Linked DNA regions of Homo sapiens. The protein of the gene in region 2 purifies or fractionates together with the protein of the main gene of each other region. This does not show direct contact. Each region holds a gene or a part of one and is shown on either strand. Other genes may lie near its edges.

Region 1 (3,314 bases), on a different chromosome or scaffold from region 2:
CAGGGTCTTACTATATTGCACAGGCTGGTCTTAAACTCCTGGGCTCAAACAGTCCTCCCACTTTCGCCTCCCAATGTGCTGGGATTACAGTCATGAGACACTGCGCCCAGCTATTTTCTTGTTTTTAAAAGAACTCTACTCTTTGAAGATAGAGACACAGGGGTCATTGTGATAGCCCAGGAGGGCAATAACAAGGGCCTGAGCTCAGTTCTGGCACTGGGTCTGGAGAAGGCAGGGTTGAATAGTAGTTAAATCAAGCAATATTTCGCTGTAGACTTGCCTATGGAATCAGAATTGAGAACCTGGAGGAAAAGCTTAAAGGGTCTCAGAGCAGACAAAACAGATGCCACAATCTACACCAAAGTTGTGCATCTTCCTCGCTGGGAAGAAGCTTTCTCAAAGCCTGCTGACTCTGCCTTTATCCACAGTTTTAATCATCGTAGCAGTTCGGAAGCAGCCAGTTAGAAAGTGGGGCTGTCAAAGGTGGACGCATTGATCTAAGTGTGAGGAAACAACTGACAGCTTGATGCGAGGGAAAAGTCCTACGATTGTACAACTCAGGAACTTTACTAAAAATCGCTGAATTGTAAGCTTAAAATGAGTGACTTTTATGGTGTGTGAATTACACCTCACTAAAGCGGTTTTTTTGACAAAAGTGGACCAAAAAACAATGCAAAGAAATTTTGAGAACTTGGAAGACGCAAGAGTGTGTAGAGTCATTTAGTGCAAAGGCAAATAGCACGTCATCCCTCTCAACAGATGTAACTGGGACTGGTGGTTTGTTAGTTAACAAAAAATATTTTTTTAAGTTATATTTTTTTAAGTTAGTTAAAGGAGGCAATCATGGCTGGGCACGGTGGCTCACGCCTATAATCCCAGCACTTTGGGAGGCTGAGGCGGGAGGATTGCCTGAGGTTAAGAGTTCAAGACCAGCCTGACCAACATGGTGAAACCCTGTCTCTACTAAAAATACAAAATTAGCCAGGTGTGGTGGCGCACGCCTGTAATCCCAGCTACTCGGGAGGCTGAGGCAGGAGAATCACTTGAACCCAGGAGGCAGAGGTTGCAGTGAGCGGATATTGCACCATTGCACTCCAGCCTGGGCAACAAGAGTGAAACTCCGTCTCAAAAAAACAAAAACAAAAGGAGAGAATCATAAAAATGATACATACATTCTTTTTTTTTTTTTTTTTTTTTTTTAGACAGAGTCTTGCTCTGTCACCCAGGCTGGGGTACAATGGCACAATCTTGACTCACTGCAACCTCCACCTCCCGGGTTCAAGCAATTCTCCTGCCTTAGCCTCCCAAGTAGCTGGGACTACAGGTACCCACCACCATGCCTGGTTAATTTTTGCATTTTTAGTAGAGACAGGGTTTCACCATGTTGGCCAGGCTGGTCTTGAACTCCTGACCTCAGGTGATCCACCTGCCTCAGCCTCCCAAAGTGTTGGGCTTACAGGTGTGAGCCACGGCGCCCAGCCAATAGATACATTTGGTTTCTTTGTTGTTGTTGTTTTGTTTTGTTTTGTTTTGAGATGGAGTCTCACTTTGTCTCCCAGGCTGGAGTGCAGTGGCATGATCTCGGCTCACTGCAACCTCCACCTCCCGGGTTCAAGCAATTCTTTGCTTCAGCCTCCCGAGTAGCTGGGATTACAGGCACCTGCCACCACACCTGGCTAATTTTTATATTTTTAGTAGAGATGGGGTTTCACCATCTTGGCCAGACTGATCTTGAACTCCTGACCTCGTGATCCACCCACCTTGGCCTCCTAAAGTACTGGATTACAGGCGTGAGCCACCGTGCCCGGCCGATACCTTCTTTAAACCATTTATTTTTGTTTTAAACATAAAACATGCGAGGTGTAGTGGCACCCCTCTAGTCCCAGCTACTCAGGAGGCTCAGGTGGGAAGATCGCTTGAGCCCAGGAGTTTGAGTCCAGCCTGGGCAACATGGCAAGACTCTATCCCTAAAAAATAAAAGTAGGCCGGGGTGGTGGCTCACACCTGCAATCCCAGCACCTTGGGAGGCTGAGGGTGGATCACTTGAGGCCAGGAGTTCAAGACCAGCCTGGCCAACATGGTGAAACCCCGTCTCTACTAAAAATACAAAAATTAGCCGGGCGTGATGGCACACACCTGTAATCCCAGCTACTCCAGAGGCTGAAGCAGAAGAATACCTTGAACCCGGGAAGCGGAGGTTGCAGTGAGCCAAGATCGCGCCACTGCACTCCAGTCTGGGTGACAGAGCAAGACTCTGTCTCAAAAACAAACAAATAAATAAATAATAAAAATAAAACATATACATTCATTTAGCATATTTTGATGCAGGACCAGGACCTTTTCTTCAAGGAGGCCCTCCCTGGTTGGAATCTGCCATGTCTTTCACACAAATCACACCTTAACTCCCATTTCCAGTTTCCATTTCTTTTAGGTAGAAAAATAATTTAAAGTTCATCTGAAAGCAAAGTCCTAGTTTTTACAATGTTTTCTCTCATCTTTTTTTGAGACATTGAGGTATAATTTGCCTATGGTAAAATTCATCCTCTGTAGTGTGTCGGTTTAAGAGTTTTGACAAACACACACAGTCATGCAGCCACCATCAGCCAAGATATAGAATATTCTCCAGTCTTTTAGGGCTAGATCTTCCACACCCAATTCGGCCACAGTTTTTTTAGCATCATCTTTATCAAGATTTTCTAAAGCATTTAATTAAGTTTTTATAGAAACAACAACTCTCTTTTTGTGCTCATTTCATCAATTTATATTATATTTCATTAAATTATGCAATTACAATAACAAATGTAATTCACACCAGAAAGTTTGAGACCAAACACAATTGACTGTGGGTAACATTCAACTCAGGTGTGCAGGAGCCTCAAGGAGCCTGCTGCCTTCCAGGGCTCGGCGTTTTGTGGACATCTGTCAATATGCTTTACAGGAGAAATGGAGGCGGGTTAAGCTAGAGAGTCATTGGGGTGAAGATCTGCCAGGATAGCTGTACATGAATCCCTGACCAGTGCAAACTTTGGTATTCTTGTCATAGTTCCTCATCAGTAGGGAAAAAGCTAGATTCCATTCTGTATCCTGAGCCTCCTTAAGAAGAGAAGGATACAAAGCATTTTAGAAAGTTCTAAATTATCAGCACAAGCCGGGCATGGTAGCTTACACCTGTAATCCCAGCACTTTGGGAGGCTGAGGTGGGTGGATCTCTTGAGGTCAGGAGTTCGAGACCAGCCTGGCCAACATGGTGAAACCCAGTCTCTACTAAAAATACAAAAATTATCCAGGCATGGTGGCACATGCCTGTAATCCCA
Region 2 (3,757 bases):
GATGAACTTTTAGAGAAGTTTCATTAATTATTCATATCCACAAGTGCCTTGTACAGTACTGGCCATATTGAATAATTACTGAATGAATTTGCTTGTTATTAACATGTTATTGACTTCAGTTTTAGCATGTCTTTAAGATTATAAATGTTTCTGCCCAAACCATTTTCTATTATATTTTTGAAATTTATGGGCATCAAGTGGATAATTAAGTAGATAATTAAGTGAATAAGGTGAATCTGTAAACCCTACAAAATATAGTAGTTAAGAGGACAACTTGGATAAAAATGTATAGAATTAAAGAATTGTGTTCAAATCTCCCTTGCGGTCATCTGACAAAGTCAAACTTAACTGCTGTCTACAGTAAGATATGGCATTATTTCACATTTTAATTTACTCAAATGGCAAATGTGGCATTTCAAACACTTTCATTCATGCTAGATTTAAGTTCTGCATGGAAAGTCCTCTGTAAGGACATCATTATTCTATCTGGCATCATTCATTCTTGAACATGGGTTATAAAAGTTTCAGTCTTTTCTGGCAGAAAATACAAATAGATGACTGTGTATTACAACATTATAATAGGAATAACAGCAATGCATCAAGAAGCCAAAATGTGTTCAGAACTCAGGCTGAGCCTTCTCTGCCTCCTCAAGCTAACACAAATTTTTGACTCCAAATGTTATAATTAAAAGTCTTATCTTCATCTACGTATTTTTCATTTCTCATTTCTCAAATGCCTGTTCCAGGTGTTTGCCAATGTTTAGACAGTCACTACTCAATGTTTTCTATTATTTTGTTTCTTAAAATCTTCAAATGTTGGAAATTACAGTGTTGGCTTTCAGGGACTCAAAAATGTGTAAGTGTGTGTGGTTTTGTGTGTTTTCCTCCTAAGCTCAGGGATAAAACTAAACAAACACGAGTACTGGGCAGGCTAGCTAGTTTTAAAAGAAGGCAAAAAGGCTCAGAGAATCGGCATGTTGTTAGACAGGGTGTGCCCACTGGCACAAGACCTCCTGGGGAGAGGCTGGACATTCAGGATGTTTATGAGTAAAAGTAGAAGGTGGAAAAAGAACACACAAGGCCCAGTGTCCTGACAGCCTGGCACGAACGCAGCTCAAAATAATTACTACTGCTGAAGGAGCCGTTTCTGTTCCATCTTGTGTCCTTGCTAAAATAAATAATAAATAATAACAATAAAGCAGTCTACATAAATATATGAAATACCCATATAGAGCTATTTATTTGTATATAAAATATCTGTATTTTTTTCTTACTTCTATCTGAGGACGCCAGCTTCCGAATGAAGCGGAGTTTTTGTCTACCAGACCCACAAGCAGCATGGTGCGGGTAGAATCCTGTTTTAAAGAAGCCCAGAACAATAATTCCCGCAATCATAGAGAAAATAAGCCAGTGCCCGAAAGCAACAAATAAAAATAATGTGTGAAGAAAAAGAAAAGGACTTCTTCCTAGCGGCGGCAGATGCCCCCAGACTTTATGACTTCCTCTCCATCCCGACAGGGAAAGCAGGACTGAGTTTGTCGGAAGGTGAGCGGGGCTTGGCCAGAGACGGTGTGCGCTGAGGCAGCGGCCCTGGACAAGAGTGGCGTTTGGATACTTGACGGTGAAAGGGGAAGAAGCCAGTCACCAGCTCCAAAGTCCAGGAACTACACCTGGCAAAGGTCAAAGCCTGCGAGGTAAGTCAATTGCGGACAACGCCTGAGCCCCGCGTTTGCAGCCGGCGAGTTGACTTCGGTAGGGAGAAAGTGGCCGGCCCCAAAGGGCAGCCCCGTGGGGGCGCGAGTGGCTAGCTCAGTTTGCGGTCCCCTTTACTCCCACGCCTGCAAATCTCAGACCCCTACGCCCTCCCCTCGCCGGCCTTGGTGCGTCGGGGTCCCGCCGCCCGCCGTCCCTTACCGAGCCAGAAGTGCAGGTGGTAGGTGAAGCCTCGGCTCGTCTTGGCCGTGTGCAGCACCAGGTAGGCATCCCCGACGTAGAAGTCGCCGTGAGCGCTCTGGGGCACGGGCACCAGCTCCAGCTTCTCAATCCTCCAGACCTGCAGCCCCGCCTGCTTGCCCGCCCGGGCGAACTCTTCGTGGTATAGCTCCCGCGCCATGGCTCCTGCACGCGATGCTCCGGGGGACGCGTGATATCGCTGATCTTGGACTAAACCGAGAGCAGCAGGAGGAACCTTATTCGCCGCCACTTTATAGTGTTTGCCATCCGGGGAGGCGGCGCCCTGAAACGGGAGGGGCTAAGTGCCCAGGCGCGAGTTGACAGAGGAGACGATCGCTTCCCACGGGGAGCGCAGCGCTGGCTTCCAAGCTCCCACGCCTTGCCCCAGGCCAGGAGCGGAATCGGCGTCCCAGAAGTCTTGAGATTCAGAGGGAGTTTATAGTAACTCGTGCCAATGCCTCCTCCAAGGAAAGACATTTTCTCTAGCAATAGACGAAGAACATTAACGGTTAAAACTGCTTGGCACTCCTTTGTGCATACCCATCACTACCGTCCTGCATATTTCCCCTTCTCTCGCTAATCCTCTTATTTCTGGATCTCAGTTGTGCCTGGCAGGAGGGGTGAGGTGAGGAAAGAGCGCGCCAGCCCTGCAGAGTTGAGTCAGCGTTTACTCGGGTGGAGCAATACCTGTTCTTTCTGGCCCTCTAGAATAATTCTTAGAACAAGGCTTCCTCTGCTAATAGCAACACCTGCCGTTAGGCAGCAGAGGAGTGTGCCACATTAGCATGCTGGAATAATTTTAATACATCCTTCTTTAAAAAATGGGCTTTTTGAGTAACAAGCATCCTAATGATCAATTCTGTCATTTCATTGGGCAATCTCTGCATTCCTGACGACCAAAGTTTCTGTCTCGATCTTCCAGTTTGAAAATACCATGAAAAACAGCATGTCAGATTTCTTGGACAGGAAGAAAACCTGGAAGAATGGCAGTATTACCCCAGGTGACAGAGCTCTGTAAATCTCAGAGTTCAGGAGCTGTGGTTGAGCTCTCTTAACACCTGCTTCCTTTGGCCAAGAAAGATGAAAACAACAACAAAAACCCAGCAGCCGCCGTCCTGAGATGTTCTCTGCAGGGCTGTTTGTGGCTGTAATTTTATGCTTGGCCGGACTTCTGGGTTACCTGTTACCTAGCTTCAAGGTGATAATTTTCTTTGTTTTACCTACAGGTTTTGCTTTTGCAGCATGGCTAAAACACTATGGAATACAGATGGAAATTTTACTCTTGATTTGGCATTCATTTAACAAGCTGGTATAGCAAAGGATTCTGTTACTGAAAAAGGCAAATCACTCAGGATGTATAGAGTAAGAAAGCTGAATTTCATGCATGTAAAATTGTTTTCATTCAATTTCTCAAATTACATGAATCCCTGGAAGGTCAATAATAATGCAAAATTAGATTTTTTTCCTTAATTAAATTATGTTTTTAATAGGTTATTACATGACCATGGTAAAAAAATTAAAAGTACAAAATGTGTGCAATAAAAAATTATCTCCATTTCACCCTGCCACCCAGTTGCTTTCCCCAAAGGCAATTACGTTACCAGTTTCTTATGTATTTTTCCAGGCACTCAAATTTTGTCAACAAGAATATAGGTAATGTAGTTATTTTAAATTTTTAACAGAAAATGTAACATATAACCTTTTCGAATCCCCCCCCGTGTGTGTGTGTGTGTGTGTGTGTGTGTGTGTGTGTGTGTGTGTGTCTGTGTATCAACACACAGTACTCATAGAGCTACCGGTTTTT

What was found. The genes of interacting proteins can lie anywhere in the genome.
Region 1: the proteins of SCIN (region 2) and CORO2B purify together in Homo sapiens (co-immunoprecipitation; one large-scale study listed by IntAct). This does not show direct contact.

What each region holds. Positions count from the first base shown.
Region 1 is NC_000015.10:68,721,941-68,725,254, forward strand, and holds part of CORO2B (coronin-2B), read left to right. Parts: intron 1-3,314. UniProt on the Homo sapiens protein: May play a role in the reorganization of neuronal actin structure.
Region 2 is NC_000007.14:12,569,143-12,572,899, reverse strand, and holds the start of SCIN (scinderin), read right to left. Parts: upstream 2,181-3,757; 5' UTR 2,114-2,180; coding exon 1,915-2,113; exon of another isoform or gene 1,519-1,914; intron 1-1,518. UniProt on the Homo sapiens protein: Ca(2+)-dependent actin filament-severing protein that has a regulatory function in exocytosis by affecting the organization of the microfilament network underneath the plasma membrane.